4 linked regions of the Homo sapiens genome follow. The protein of the gene in region 4 purifies or fractionates together with the protein of the main gene of each other region. This does not show direct contact. Each region holds a gene or a part of one and is shown on either strand. Other genes may lie near its edges. The genes, in order: CCT6B, FLNC, HERC1 and SMOX.

Evidence for each region.
Region 1: the proteins of SMOX (region 4) and CCT6B purify together in Homo sapiens (affinity purification with mass spectrometry; 2 studies listed by BioGRID and IntAct, with this or other methods). This does not show direct contact.
Region 2: the proteins of SMOX (region 4) and FLNC purify together in Homo sapiens (affinity purification with mass spectrometry; one large-scale study listed by BioGRID and IntAct). This does not show direct contact.
Region 3: the proteins of SMOX (region 4) and HERC1 purify together in Homo sapiens (affinity purification with mass spectrometry; 2 studies listed by BioGRID and IntAct, with this or other methods). This does not show direct contact.

What each region holds. Positions count from the first base shown.
Region 1 is NC_000017.11:34,927,298-34,930,468, reverse strand, and holds the end of CCT6B (T-complex protein 1 subunit zeta-2), read left to right. Parts: intron 1-1,434; coding exon 1,435-1,507; intron 1,508-2,351; coding exon 2,352-2,421; 3' UTR 2,422-2,608; downstream 2,609-3,171. UniProt on the Homo sapiens protein: Component of the chaperonin-containing T-complex (TRiC), a molecular chaperone complex that assists the folding of proteins upon ATP hydrolysis.
Region 2 is NC_000007.14:128,854,406-128,857,159, reverse strand, and holds part of FLNC (filamin-C), read right to left. Parts: intron 2,748-2,754; coding exon 2,478-2,747; intron 2,386-2,477; coding exon 2,248-2,385; intron 1,962-2,247; coding exon 1,846-1,961; intron 643-1,845; coding exon 510-642; intron 416-509; coding exon 239-415; intron 43-238; coding exon 1-42.
Region 3 is NC_000015.10:63,638,390-63,641,960, forward strand, and holds part of HERC1 (probable E3 ubiquitin-protein ligase HERC1), read right to left. Parts: intron 3,255-3,571; coding exon 3,081-3,254; intron 2,057-3,080; coding exon 1,763-2,056; intron 388-1,762; coding exon 322-387; intron 148-321; coding exon 22-147; intron 1-21. UniProt on the Homo sapiens protein: Involved in membrane trafficking via some guanine nucleotide exchange factor (GEF) activity and its ability to bind clathrin. Acts as a GEF for Arf and Rab, by exchanging bound GDP for free GTP.
Region 4 is NC_000020.11:4,179,795-4,183,365, reverse strand, and holds part of SMOX (spermine oxidase), read right to left. Parts: intron 1,564-3,571; coding exon 1,390-1,563; intron 1,278-1,389; coding exon 518-1,277; intron 1-517. UniProt on the Homo sapiens protein: Flavoenzyme which catalyzes the oxidation of spermine to spermidine. Can also use N(1)-acetylspermine and spermidine as substrates, with different affinity depending on the isoform (isozyme) and on the experimental conditions.

The sequences.
Region 1 (3,171 bases), on a different chromosome or scaffold from region 4:
GTTAAGTGTTCTAGGGAAAGAGAACAGCCAGTGGAAAAGCCAGTGTCTGATGTTTCTGAGGAAGGAGGTGAGAGAGGTGACAGAAGGTCAGATCATGCAGGGGCATTTGGACCAGTCTCAGGACTTTGGCTTTTACTTTAGAGGAGCAGGGAGCAATTTTGAGCAGAGGTGTGACATGGCCTAATTAATTAATTTATGAGACAGTCTCGTTCTATCACCCATGCTGTGGAGTGCAGTGGCACGATCTTGGCTCACTGCAACCTCTGCCTCCCAGGTTCAAGCAATTCTCCTGCCTCAGCCTCCGGAGTAGCTGGGAATATAGGTGTCTGCTGCCACGCCCGGCTAATTTTTGTATTTTTAGTAGAGACAGGGTTTCACCATGTTGGCCAGGCATGTGGCCTAATTATGTTTAAGAGAATCACTCTGGCCACTCTCCACTTTGTAGAGAAGTCAACTGAACAAGTAGAAGGTTGGAGTTGCAATCAACTGTGGTGGAGAATACTGGCTGGAGCAGGTTGTGGGTGAGAGGACATCAGCATTCAGTTTTGGCAGAGTCAAAGTTGAAGCATCTGTAATCTTTTAATTAAAAAAGTTGGATATATGGGTCTGGAGTTCAAGGAAGAGGTCTGGGTTGGAGATTAAAACCTGAGAGTCAGGCCAGGCGCAGTGGCTCACGCCTGTAATCCCAGCACTCTGGGAGGCCAAGGTAGGTGAATCACTAAAGGTCAAGGGTTCAAGACCAGCCTGGCCAACATGGTGAAACCCCATCTCTACTAAAAATGCAAAAATTAGCCGGGGATGGTGGCAGGCCCCTATAATCCCAGCTACTTGGGAGGCTGAGTCAGGAGAATTGCTTGAACCCAGGAGGTGGAGGTTGCAGGGAGCCGAGATGGCACCACTGCACTCCAGCCTGAGTGACAGAGCAAGATCTCTGTCTCAAAAACAAAAACAAAAAACACCAAAAAAAAAAAAAAAAAGAAAGAAAACAAAAAACAAAAACACCCAAAAAACCTTGAGAGTCATCAGATGTGTATGGTTTAAATCTAAAAGTCTGGATGAGATCACCTAGGGATTAAGGGTAGAGAGAAAAGAGGCTGGGACTGAACTTTTGGGTACTCCAACGTTAAGAGGTCAGGGAGGAAGAGGAAGAAGCAGCAAAGTAATCAGAAAAGGAGCCACTAATGCAAAAGAAAGAAAACCAGAAGAGTGTGGTATCCTGGAAGATAACATAGAGTAGGCGGCAGAATGTGATCAACTGTGTTAAATACTGGTAGATGAGGTCTGAGAATCAACCATTGGATTTAACAATATGGAGGTCATTGATGACCTTGACAAAAGTAGTTTTGGTAATGTATTAAATATTTTTAGAAGATATCAATTAATATTAATAGCAAATACTAAGATTTTGGTATGAAAATTGTTTTTACTTTTCAGGTGAGCCAATGGTAGCAGCAGATGCAGGAGTTTGGGATAATTATTGTGTAAAAAAACAACTTCTTCACTCTTGGTAAGTTCATATGAACATAAAGTGAAAGACCTGTAGAGTTATAATTGATAATATTAAGATGAAATTTTTTCTATTATTTTTGTCCCTGTACAGTGGAAAAATTGTCAAGTGTATGAAAGGTGTGGTATTCAGTTATTAGAACTAGCTTCTGTCATTTTATAGTCCATAGTCCCTTTTATATTTTAGATCTAGCAGTGTTAAGTTCTAAGAAAAATTAACCTTACTATTTGAGGGGGAAAGAAAAGGGGAAATTTACTGAAATAATAGCACATGCATGATGGAGAAAATCAAATGATATTGTAAAAATAAGCTCAATTTTGCTGAAATATAAATCAGGAATGCACTTTATCAGCAAAGGAGTTTAAATTATAATACAAAGGGTGACATTTGGGCCAGTGCGGTGGCTCACACCCGTAATCCCAGCACTTTGGGAGGCCGAGGCGGGTGAATCACCTAAGGTCAGGAGTTCGAGACCAGCCTGGCAAACATGGTGAAACCCTGTCTCTACTAAAAATACAAAAATTAGCCAGGCGTGTTGGTGGGTGCCTGTTATCCCAGCTACTCGGGAGGCTGAGGCGGGAGAATTGCTTGAACCTGGGAGGCAGAAGTTGCAGTAAGCTGAGGTCTTGCCATTGCACTTCAGCCTGGGCAACAAGAGTGAAACTCCATCTTGGGAAAAAAAAAAAAGGTGACATTTGTATTTGTATTTATAATAGCCTTGTCTCATAAAACATCATACTAACATCATTAAAGAACAAAGTACCCTACATAGGTAAAGATTGCTGGGGAAAAAAGCTAAGAGTGGGTTAGTAGGCTTTACTCACCCTCTCATCTTTTTCCTTAGCACAGTGATTGCCACCAACATTCTCCTGGTTGATGAAATTATGCGAGCTGGGATGTCTTCTCTCAAATGATGATTGAATTCAAAATCAACCCTTCTAGAAGATGAAATTTAGTACACTTTACATCTGACTACTATTGTGTAGCCTGAGCCATTCTGAATTTCTACACAATAAATGCAGTTTATGTCTTTTGGGTCTTAATAGTCTCAAAAATATTTCATCAAGGTATAAAGAACACAATAAATACTTTTACAGTAAAGGAATAATATTTAAATATTTCCCCAAGAGTCCTAACTCCCCACTCTTTGTTATATGCTATTGCAGTTTTTATAGCATAGGATCTTTATGATACTTAGACCTTTTGACAAGTTTTAATTAACAAAATAGAGGTTTTAGTACACCCAAGTAAATTTCCAATTTATCAGAGGGTATAAATATAGTAGGACAGAATGTTTCATTTTCTCTCAAAATTCTTTCAGTGACTTTTTGCTGCCACTCTTTCCTCTTATAAATATGGCGTGTAGCTTTGGGTTGCATTGTTTATAATATCTGACTCAATTTATTTTGTATATCATTTATTATATTTTATCTGGCTGTTTTTGTATGTATGATCAACAATTTATGCCACTGTGCTAGCTCTGGTAGCTCTCTGTCTAGATGGTGAGATAGAACAGGTCTCATCTGGAAAGAGAATTATTGACACCAATGGTGGGAAATAATTATTTTTGGCTTATAATACAACTGTTCAGTATAGATATTATAGCAATATCTTTCTTGTTTGAAACTCTAGAATTAATCTATTATGCTTTTTATTTTTATTAG
Region 2 (2,754 bases), on a different chromosome or scaffold from region 4:
AGCCGGCATTCAGGGTGTTCACGATGAACTCTGATGACACACCTGGGGGCCAGAGGTAGCAAGGCTGAGGGCAGGAAGGGCTTGTGGCCCAAGAGGGACTGGGCCCCAGCTCCCTGGACAGCCTCTGTGGGGACTCCTGGCTTAGGAAGCAGGGCCCCTACCTCTGGAGCAAAGCAGCACCAGACTAGTGGCCAAGCACCCCCAGAAGTCACCCTGTTCCCCAGCTCCAGGCACTCACCGGTAGTGCCTCCCTCGAGCCCAGGACCGTAGGCTGACACCAAGCCTGGGTCCCCAGCCTGGCTCTGCTCCCCAACGCGGATCTTGAAGGGACTTCCAGGGATGTGGGCACCGTTGAACTTGACATCGATGGAGTGGACGCCATTCTCGTGGGGGATGAAGCGGATGGTGTGCTTGTCTGTGGATAAAGGGTTGGTGGCTTAGCCTCCATCCTTCCCCTCCCCAGAAGGCCCCAGCCCGGAAGGGAGTTGGCAGGGGCAGGGCCAGCTCACCACTGTCCAGCTCAGAGACGTAGCACTCCTCCACAGCCCCCGAGGGTGTGTGCACCCGGGCATCAATCACGCCCCGGGCACCGTTCAGCTGCACGGCAAAGGACGCTGGCTGGTTCACCTTGAGCCCCGTCTCCTGCAAAGGCCACGGAGGATGCTCAGACTCCTGGGAGGCCGGGGCTGGAGCAGTCTTCTCTGAAGCCCCACACGGTGCTCACTGTAAGCCCAGCCCAAAGGCTGCTGCCACCCCATGCCCAGCCTGGCCCCTGCCTGCCAGCCCAGCCTGGGAGCAGGAGGAGCCAGGGTCCGGTATGCAACCCTATGTGTGCACCTGCTATCCTAGCTGTGCTTGGTGTGTGGGAGATGACAGACGATGTGCCCTGTCCTGGCTGAGGAAGGAAGGGCCCCACTCTGTGTGAAGCAGGCTGAGGGCGGAGGGCAAGTGCCTGATGGGCTGTGTGGGCTGGGGGTGCCAGAGAGCTCTGAGGTAGGAAGCTGAGTTTCACTGGCCTGGCCTGGGAGAGCTTCCTGGAGAAGGTGGACCAACAGGGAGGACCAGAAGAAGCACAGAAGGGCTCTGGGGGAGGGATTGGAGCCTGCATCGGGGAGCCCAGTTCAGGAGTGGGAGGAGGAGATGCACAAGGACTCTGGATGGGCCAATGTGACCACCCTGAGGGGCAGCCAGGAGGCGCGTGGGAGAAGGAGGTGGGGTGAAGCCCATTCTGTGCGCCTTATGCAGAAGCTCCTTTACAATGTGTCCCCTGGACACCTGGCCCCCTGGTTTGCATGTTTCAGTGTGACTTGCTGAAAGCCTTCCTTGCACATGTCCGCTGTGACAGAATGAAAGGAACACACCACATCTCTAGAAGTCAGCAGCAAGAGAAAGCAAGCCAGGCCCCCAGCGGCCTGAAGAGGATGCAGCCCAGGCTCTGCAGCCCATAGGCATTCCCTTTAGAGGAGCCTCTCACACCCTCTGTGCAAACTGGTTTACTCTTAGTTTGTATAGATTTTATGCTCTCATTCTTATAAATGTTGTCATCTAGCATTCTTACAACAGAAGGTGGAACAAACTGTAACAAGAAATGGCAGGTGGCAGTAGGACAGGCAGACACACCCTGAGAAAGGCAGAACGAGGCGTGGCATGCCTGAGTGCACGGGCAAGCCCCCAGGGTGGGAGCCCACCGTCCCCAAGGGCCCTGCCTCGTGCCTTATGAGAAGGGACTCCTAACTGGCCCTTCCAAGGTCACTGCTAAATCCCTGGCCCCATGGACCTGCTGTCCTCAACTCCTGCCCATCTCTCAGATAGCAGAAACCCTCCACCCCCACCCTGGGCACAAACCTGGAGGCTGGTGACAGTGAGACGGCGAGCGTCATCCGAGAGGGAGGCCACAGGCACCACAAAGGGGCTGTCTGGGATGTGCTCATCATTGAACTTGATGGAGACCTCATAGTCACCTGGGGAGAGAGACCAGTCAGCACAGGTTCCGGGATGGAGGTTGGCAGGGCGGGAGCCTCCCCACCCTGGCCTTATCCCAGGAAAGGCTCTGTGGTCAGCGCTCAGATCTGGAGGCAGACACATGTTTCTGAGGGTGTGGGGTAGAGGGAGACGGGGCAGAGGAAGAGCAGGGGGCTCCGGGGAGGGGAGTTCTGTGGCCCCAAGCATCTCCTGCCTGGCCAGTGGGCAGAAACCCAGTCTGGAAGGTCAGGCAGGCCCAGCCCCACTGCCAGTGTGGACGCCCACCTGGTTCCTGGACGACATAGGAGACGCCGCAGGAGCCATCTTTGCGATCCTCAAATGCAATCTCCGCTTTGCTAGGACCCTCCACAGCAATGGACAGGCCCCCAGCGCCAGCCTCCCGGGTCCAGATGCTGAACTCGGCTGGGGACAGGCAAGGTAGTGGACTTCAGCATCATCGCCCCTCACACTGGCTGCCCTGACTTCATCCCCACTCCTGGCCACCTGCCCCTTACCTGGCACGCCGGCCACACCTCGCTCCAGCCCTGTGCCTCCGGCCCGCACCTTGTGGGCACCACCTTCACCCAGCGGCCCCACAGTGAACTGAAAGGGGCTGCCGGGCACGTGCTGGCCACGGTACTTGACAGCGACCGTATGGGGCCCCATTTCCTGGGGCACAAAGCGCACGCTGTAGGCGCTGTCCTCGCCCTCGACGATCTCTGCGGCTTCCACCTTGCCCGATGGGCTGGTCACCTGTGCAGTCATGTCCTGAGAGCTGGCCTCACCTGCAGG
Region 3 (3,571 bases), on a different chromosome or scaffold from region 4:
ATTTTTTATCCTGTTAGTTACCTGTTGGGCCTGTGAGAATGAGGGAGCTGCTGCAGGTACCATTACATTTCTTCCAGCTTCTGCCAGCTGTCCATGCCTACCAGCACCCCATAAGTAGACATCACATTTACCTCCCAGGTGCCAGTCCTAGAAAACCACAATCATCTCAAAATTAGAGTCATCCATTCACTCAAACAGCCATGTACTACGTACCAAGTGTGTGCCAGCCTGTATGGGAGACACCAGGGCACAAACACACAAGCATTTAGAATCAAAACATTGACTGAGAACCATCATACAGTTATCTTCATCTTTACTGACCTCAGGTCTGGAAGTTGCCCAAGACATAATTTGTTCATCCATGCCGTTAATCCATTTACTGTTATCCTGAAAAACAGGGGGTACATAATGATCAATTCTGCTTAGGCAAGATGCACCTGCTCTTAACCACAAAGTCCTCTTCTAATCATTAAGTCTTATTTCCAAAAAAGAATATGGTAATATTATGATAAATTAAGAGCAGTTTTATAATTATGTCAAACTTGATTTTATGCACTGTCAGTATTTCCCTTTATTATAAACACTTTCACTATCACTATCACTATGGCATTGGTGATTCAAAGCTAGCCATGTGTTTTCTGAACACCCACAGGTACAAGGTCATGTGGAGGACCCCACACCCCTGTAAACTCTTTGTGTAGCTGTGGGCAAATTACTTCATCTTTCTGGGCTTCAGCTTCCTCATCTACAAAATTACAGAGTTGGGCCAAATGGGCTTAGAAGGACATTTTCTGATTAAAATATTGTATACTTTTGTGCCACGTGACATTTCAGTCAACAACAAACTGCATGTGTGAAGATGGTCTCTTAAGATTATAAAACCTTATTTTTATTATATCTTCTATGTTTACATACACAAATACTTATCACTGTTACAAATGCCTAGAGCATTGAATACAGTCATATTCTGTACAGGTTTGTAGCCTAGGAGTAATCAGACTATACCGTATAGTCTTGTTGCAAGTAGGCTGTATCATCTAGGTTTGTGTAAGTACTATACACTCTATGATATTCCCAGCGTCAAGATTGCCTAACAATGCATTTCTCAGAACATATCCCCATCATTAAGTGATGCATAGCTACAGTTACATAATTTTACTTAATTTATATTTGTCTGTTTCATATTGTATCAATGTTTATCCAAATGTTTGTATACATAAATCTTAAGTATACAAAGAGGTTGTTAGATCATGTGCTGTCCTGTAGTCTAAACAGGTATTTTATCTATGTCACAGTTTCTAGAGTAGACACTCTCAAATACAAACAGAATGAAATGACAATTAGAATGCTCTTCTATATTTTATTTGATGCTAATTAAAGACATGATTGAAATGCCAAATAAATTAGAATCTATATGTGGCATATAACCCACAAGATGACCAGGAAAAGATGCTAAGATATATACAACTAAAGCACTAACAAAGTACCTATGGACAAAAGAAAATGAGAAAATATGGGACTATGTCATTGAGAGGTGGCAGGTTTACAAGAGTTCAACAGTGCTTACATTATCAATTCCTGTCACTATGGAGGCCTGCCATCAGATTGAAAGTGACTATCTGAAAGAAAAATATTTTCCATTTCTCTTAAGGGTATCCTTCTAGCCATGCATACCAGCAAAGACTTATTAGGGGTCTGCTACATGCCCAATACCCATGATAAAATCTCAGCTGCAAATAATAGCAGCTCACAGTACATTTACCATTAGAAATACAAGTTCATCCTCTGGAACAGGTTCTAGATCTGGAACGGTAAAAGATTCTGGAAACTGGGCTCCATTGGTCAGGGCTTCGGCAGCTTTTATAGTGGTTGAGAAACATTCTAACCAGGCCCATTCATTTGGATTCCAGGATGCAGGGTCAGGGAGACAGTTCTGGTGGTGTGGTGGCACTGGAGGGTTACACAACAGCTGATCCAGATGAAGTCCCACAGCAAGGGAAGCCAAGCATTGCATATAGGGGCTATGAACAAGTTGGTCACCACAAACCACATGAGGCTAAAACAAAATACAAGGATATAATATGTCAAAGAGTTTGTGCCAAATATTCTAAATTAACCTACCGTAGTCTGAAAGTCTGGAATCATATTTTTCAAGTTTACTGTTTAAGCTTTTTGCTAGGAAATAATTTTAGATTTAGAGTGAGTTGTACAGATAGTACCGAGGATTTCTGTATACCCTTCGCCCAACTTTATCCAATGTTAACATCTTATACAACCCTGGCACATTTATCAAAACTAACAAACTAACATTGGTACAATACTAACTAAACCACAGAACTTTATTTGGTTTTCCTCAGTTTTCCCATTAATACTCCTTTTCTGCTCCAGGATCCAATCTAAGCTATCACACTGCATATAGTACATTTTCATCATGGTTTTTCTTGATTGGAAAAAAAAGCAGGTAACTATTTAACCACAGAGATCTGCTCTTCTCACTTTCCTCCTTTATAAGAGAATCCTGGTAGCCATCAAAGGAAAAGCAAAAAGCTGGAAGACAGGCTACTTTAGGATCACTGTCTGGACAAGTTCAAACGCTGCAATTCCTCATTCCAGTATTTAATGACCCTACTCAATTCAACATAGCTCTTCCACTAAATTTTCCACAAAGATTTATCTAATAAGTGGAGACGATATTCAGTCTGATACCCGCATCCATCCCTATCCCTCAACTTTGGAATGGCCAAGCCATATAAAAATAGATATATGTGTGGGTCAGAAAAGGGAAGATATTCTGCTGCATAGGTATTTTAAGAAGCTTTGGAGTGAATAAATAATCTGAAAAGCAGTAATACAAACTTGGTGTTTGTTTCTTTATTTTACTCTGGTGAAAATAAAGCAAGAATAGGCTTAGGGTTGCTGAACAACTCTTTTAGGCATGACTTACCTTCATTTGATTCTGCCCAAATAGCCCCACTTATTATCCTCAGACCTCATGCTTTTAAGGGATAAGTTCAAGGCTATAATCACATTCCAAAGCACCAGGTATCTGTGTATCTCTAGGAGTGAGTGTAATGAGTTACCTTTTCATAGGCATACTGCTCCTGAAGCATCATGGGGAGCCGCTCCAAAAATGCTCTCATGCAGGGAGCCATGTTCAATCCCAGAACACCCTGCTGTTTCAATGCTGTCCTACAGGTTGCCAAAACATGATTGGCAGCTGCCCATTCTGCTGTACAATTCACGACCAAAACATCCTGGTTGAAAATAAATCATGCCACATAATAAATTTGTTTAAATAAAAAATAATGCTATCACCATTTAATCTGCGAAATTCCTTCTAGTAACTGGGACATCTTTGCTTTTTGGATATTTTATATCCAAAAAGGCTATGCTTTTAATGCCTATGGAACTTCAAAATATCCTAAATTTTGTCTAAGTAAAAAATAATGAGAAATAATAAAATTTGTGAACTACCTCTGATTAGCTGGTACTTTTTAAGGAAAAAATGTCAATAATTAACTATTTCTTCAGAACCTGCAGAATAAGGCATCTACTATATTTCAAAAGTCAT
Region 4 (3,571 bases):
CACGGAGGATAGAAGAGGAAGGAGGGAGGCTGGGGCTCGAGCTGTGTACCCACTCAGCGCCTCCTGTGACCCCCGGCAAAACGCTCCACCTTACTTTTCCTATCTATCTGAAAACACATGACACATAATCATGTTTCCCCGCCTAATATCGGGGGTTCTCGTGAGGTCCTCCTGGAATAGTGGGTGAAAAATGTTGAGCTGAAAGACTCAGAGAGTAAAAGGCAAATCCAGCTCTTAGCAACAGAGCACAATGGGCGGTGATCTCTGAGTGTTTTACCATCAGCCTTTAGAAAGGGGGAAGAGACACAGCGCCCATAATTCTGAGTGTGTCAAGTTCTAAACTGTCAGCAACTGAAGAGCCTTTGGCTGAATGTGGCACCCTGCAGTGGCTCTCCCGTGGGGCACAGCATCCGAGCTTCACGGTCTGGGGAGGAGAGAGCTGCCATGGGTCCACCAGAGGAGGGCAGGTGAGGAAGAAGCAGGGTGGGGGAAGCGGGTCGTGGGGCACGTGGCGCACCTGTGAACTGACGCAGCATCTCCGTGCAGATCTCGGCCACTGCCTCGTCATCACACTTCTCCATGACGAGGGCCTCCTCCCCGCAGATCCAGCCGCTCAGCACATGGCCGTAGCGCTCAGGCGGGTAGAGGACATCAAAGCCGCAGATCTTGCGGTACCAGAGCTCAGGTGGGTAGGTGAGGGTGTGGCTCTCTGCTTCGTCCTCCCACACAAACTGTAGGCTGTTGCACTCAGGGCCCCAGAAGGGCTCCTCGAATTCCAGAAAGATCTTGTCGGTGGTGCCAATGCCCAGGCGGTGGATGGCAGCCACCTTCTCTGTGGGCAGGCCTGGCCGGAAGAAACTGGTGTACTGCCTCTTTAGCACACCTAGCGACACGGTCACAATCACATGGTCCGCCGGGATCAGCTCACAGTCCTCGCACTCCACCACCACCGACCACTGCTCATCCTCATCCCACCTGCCCCCCCGGGGCTCCTCTCCACCCTGGCCACCCTCCCCAGTGTCGTGATTGTGGTCGCCCTCACCCCGGGGCTCAATCTCAGGGCCTCTGGGGCGGGCTGAGGCCTGGTCCCAGTGAATGCAGCGGACAGGTTTCCCTAGCTGGATGACGTGGGCAGGGATGCCCTCCGCCAGCAGCTCCACAACCCGCATGAAGCCCGAGGGGATGATGTGGTGAGCGCCGGGGATCTCGGTCCACTCCCCGAAGGCGCTCAGGGACACCTCGTCCATGCTGTGTGAGCTGCTCTCACAGCTCTCCACCTGCGGGAAGACCCAAGGAGAAGCCAGGTGACCGCCGGGGTTGGGCAGGGGTAGGAGCAGCGTAGCCCTCCTCAGACCCAGACGCCCCCAGAATCCGTCTTCCTCAAGATACCTTCAGGTACTGCTGGATCATGGCGAGCTTCAGGCGCTTGGTAGCCTCTGGGTCGTCAGGGTCATTCCTGATGCGGTTACGCACCTCCTCTCGGGTGAACACCCCCACGCTATTTTGACTTTCAGCATTGACTGGTTTATCGTGCCGGAAGAACTCCTGGGTCAAGTTATAGACCTGCCAGAGAGACCCCATGAGACTGAAAACACCTCATCACACCTCCATCTCAAACAGAAGGCCCCCAACCCAAACCCACCAGTTCCCAGGTGTCCCCTGGATGCACTGAGCCCCTGGTCTCTGTCCCTTAGGGATCCGATGTTGCACTCAATGCTGCACCAAAAGCCAAGGCCCCGGGCAGCCACCTCCTCGCCTCCGGCCTGTCGGGGAGGTGGGATAAGCCCCGGAGGTTTTCTTGCTGGGCCCTCACTTAGGACAATGTGAAACATTTGGTGCCCATACAGTCTGTGGGAAAGAAGCCACCCCTCATGGACTCTGCATGGGCCTCCATGGGCTCCACCTCCCACTGGAGGATGGGCATTTGCACACATTTACCTGTTCCAAGAACGATACGTGCACTTTCCCTGCCACCCCTGCCCAAGTGTGTCTGCTTTGCCCGCTCCCAAGAGGGCAGTCTGGAGCTGTGGCCTGGCCAGCAGAAGGGCCCCTGACGACTGGAGACACCTCCCTGGGCCTGTGCAGCTCCGTACAAAGCACCCCCTTTGCTTCAGGCCTCAGCCACGAGTAAGGAAGCTGAGACGCAGTGGGGAAGACAGGAACACAAAAGCCAGGGTCTCAGGAGGCCCCAGTGTGCCAAGGAAGGGAGATGCATTTCACGGGCACGTTTCAGCAAGAACTCCAGCCCACACCTCATCAACAGATAACGACGATCAGTCACTTGAAAAGGGGTCTGACTGCCCGCCCGACCCTCGTGCCTGTCTCATATACAGTCCCCACTAAGCACTGGGCAGAGCTCCCTGAAGGAAGTAAGCCAGTCCAGGGATCCCCAGAAGCAACATTTACTCAACATTTACCGGGCTCTGTGCAGGACACAGCTTGTAATGTGGGCGAAACAGTCCCTGCCCCTCCCCTCACTCCAGCTGGGGAGACAGTCCACGATTGGGCTGCCGTGATAGGAAAGAACCCGGGGCTGTGAGGTCAACGCAGACAACCCTGGGCAGCTGAGAGACAGCCAGGGTGGAGAGGAAAGGGAGAAGAAAAGCATTTCAGGCAGAGGGAACAGCAACCTCAAAGATGGAGAAGCAGTCAGGAATCCTGAAGGGGTTTGGTTTTGCTGGAGGGGGCAGCAAGGAGAGAGGATCTGAGAGCCGACTTTGGAAGGGCAGGCAGGGTCCAGGGCATAAAGGACTGAGAGTTATTCCAAGGACTCTGGACTTGATCCAAGGCCCTGGCATCGCTGGAGGGCCGTGAGCAAGAAGGCGGCAGGATCACATGCCCACAGCTGTCATTCCCAGGACACCAGCTAATGGAGGCTCCTTGGTCGAGCCCCTGTGGCTGAGCTGATGAATGGTTTGTTTCCCTTCCTAAAGTGAGTGTGGTCAGCACACATGTCTGGGAATGGTGTCTGCCCTGTCCCCCAGCCCTGGGCTAGGCCCTGGGGCCACAGGGTGAAGGAAGATGGCAAAGCACAGTGATGTCCACCACCCGCCACCACCACCATCTCACTCAAGGGGAAGGCCTCCACCTGAGACACAGACATGAATTAAACTTATCTCTGGAGACTAAATTATAAAGAAGAAAGTGAGGGAAATTGTTTCATCTTGCCTCCCTGCAATCAGGAGATGCTGAGTGGTGAGCCTTAGCTGGAGTCCTCAGCAAATTCTTCACCCAGGACCACTGCCAAGGGTCAGGCTTTCAATTTGCCTCCTCCCTGGGTTTTTCCCTTGGGCGATAAGCAACCTGGTAGCCAGTCCTTAGCTTATGTTAACTAGAGGCCAAAATGCCCAGCTGAGGAGTAATGAATTTAGTCCATCGACATGACTCTTTGCATCAGCCACCAACGAGGGCAGCCTTCACCGAACATGGGTGTATCACATGGCACAGTCTCCTCTCCTGGGTTATTCGACACCTTCCCAATGTGACCCAAGGAAAATCGGACAGGTCTGTGACAGCTAATAATACTCACCCCAATTCTCATTAAGCACTTATCATTGGTTCTCATTCAATC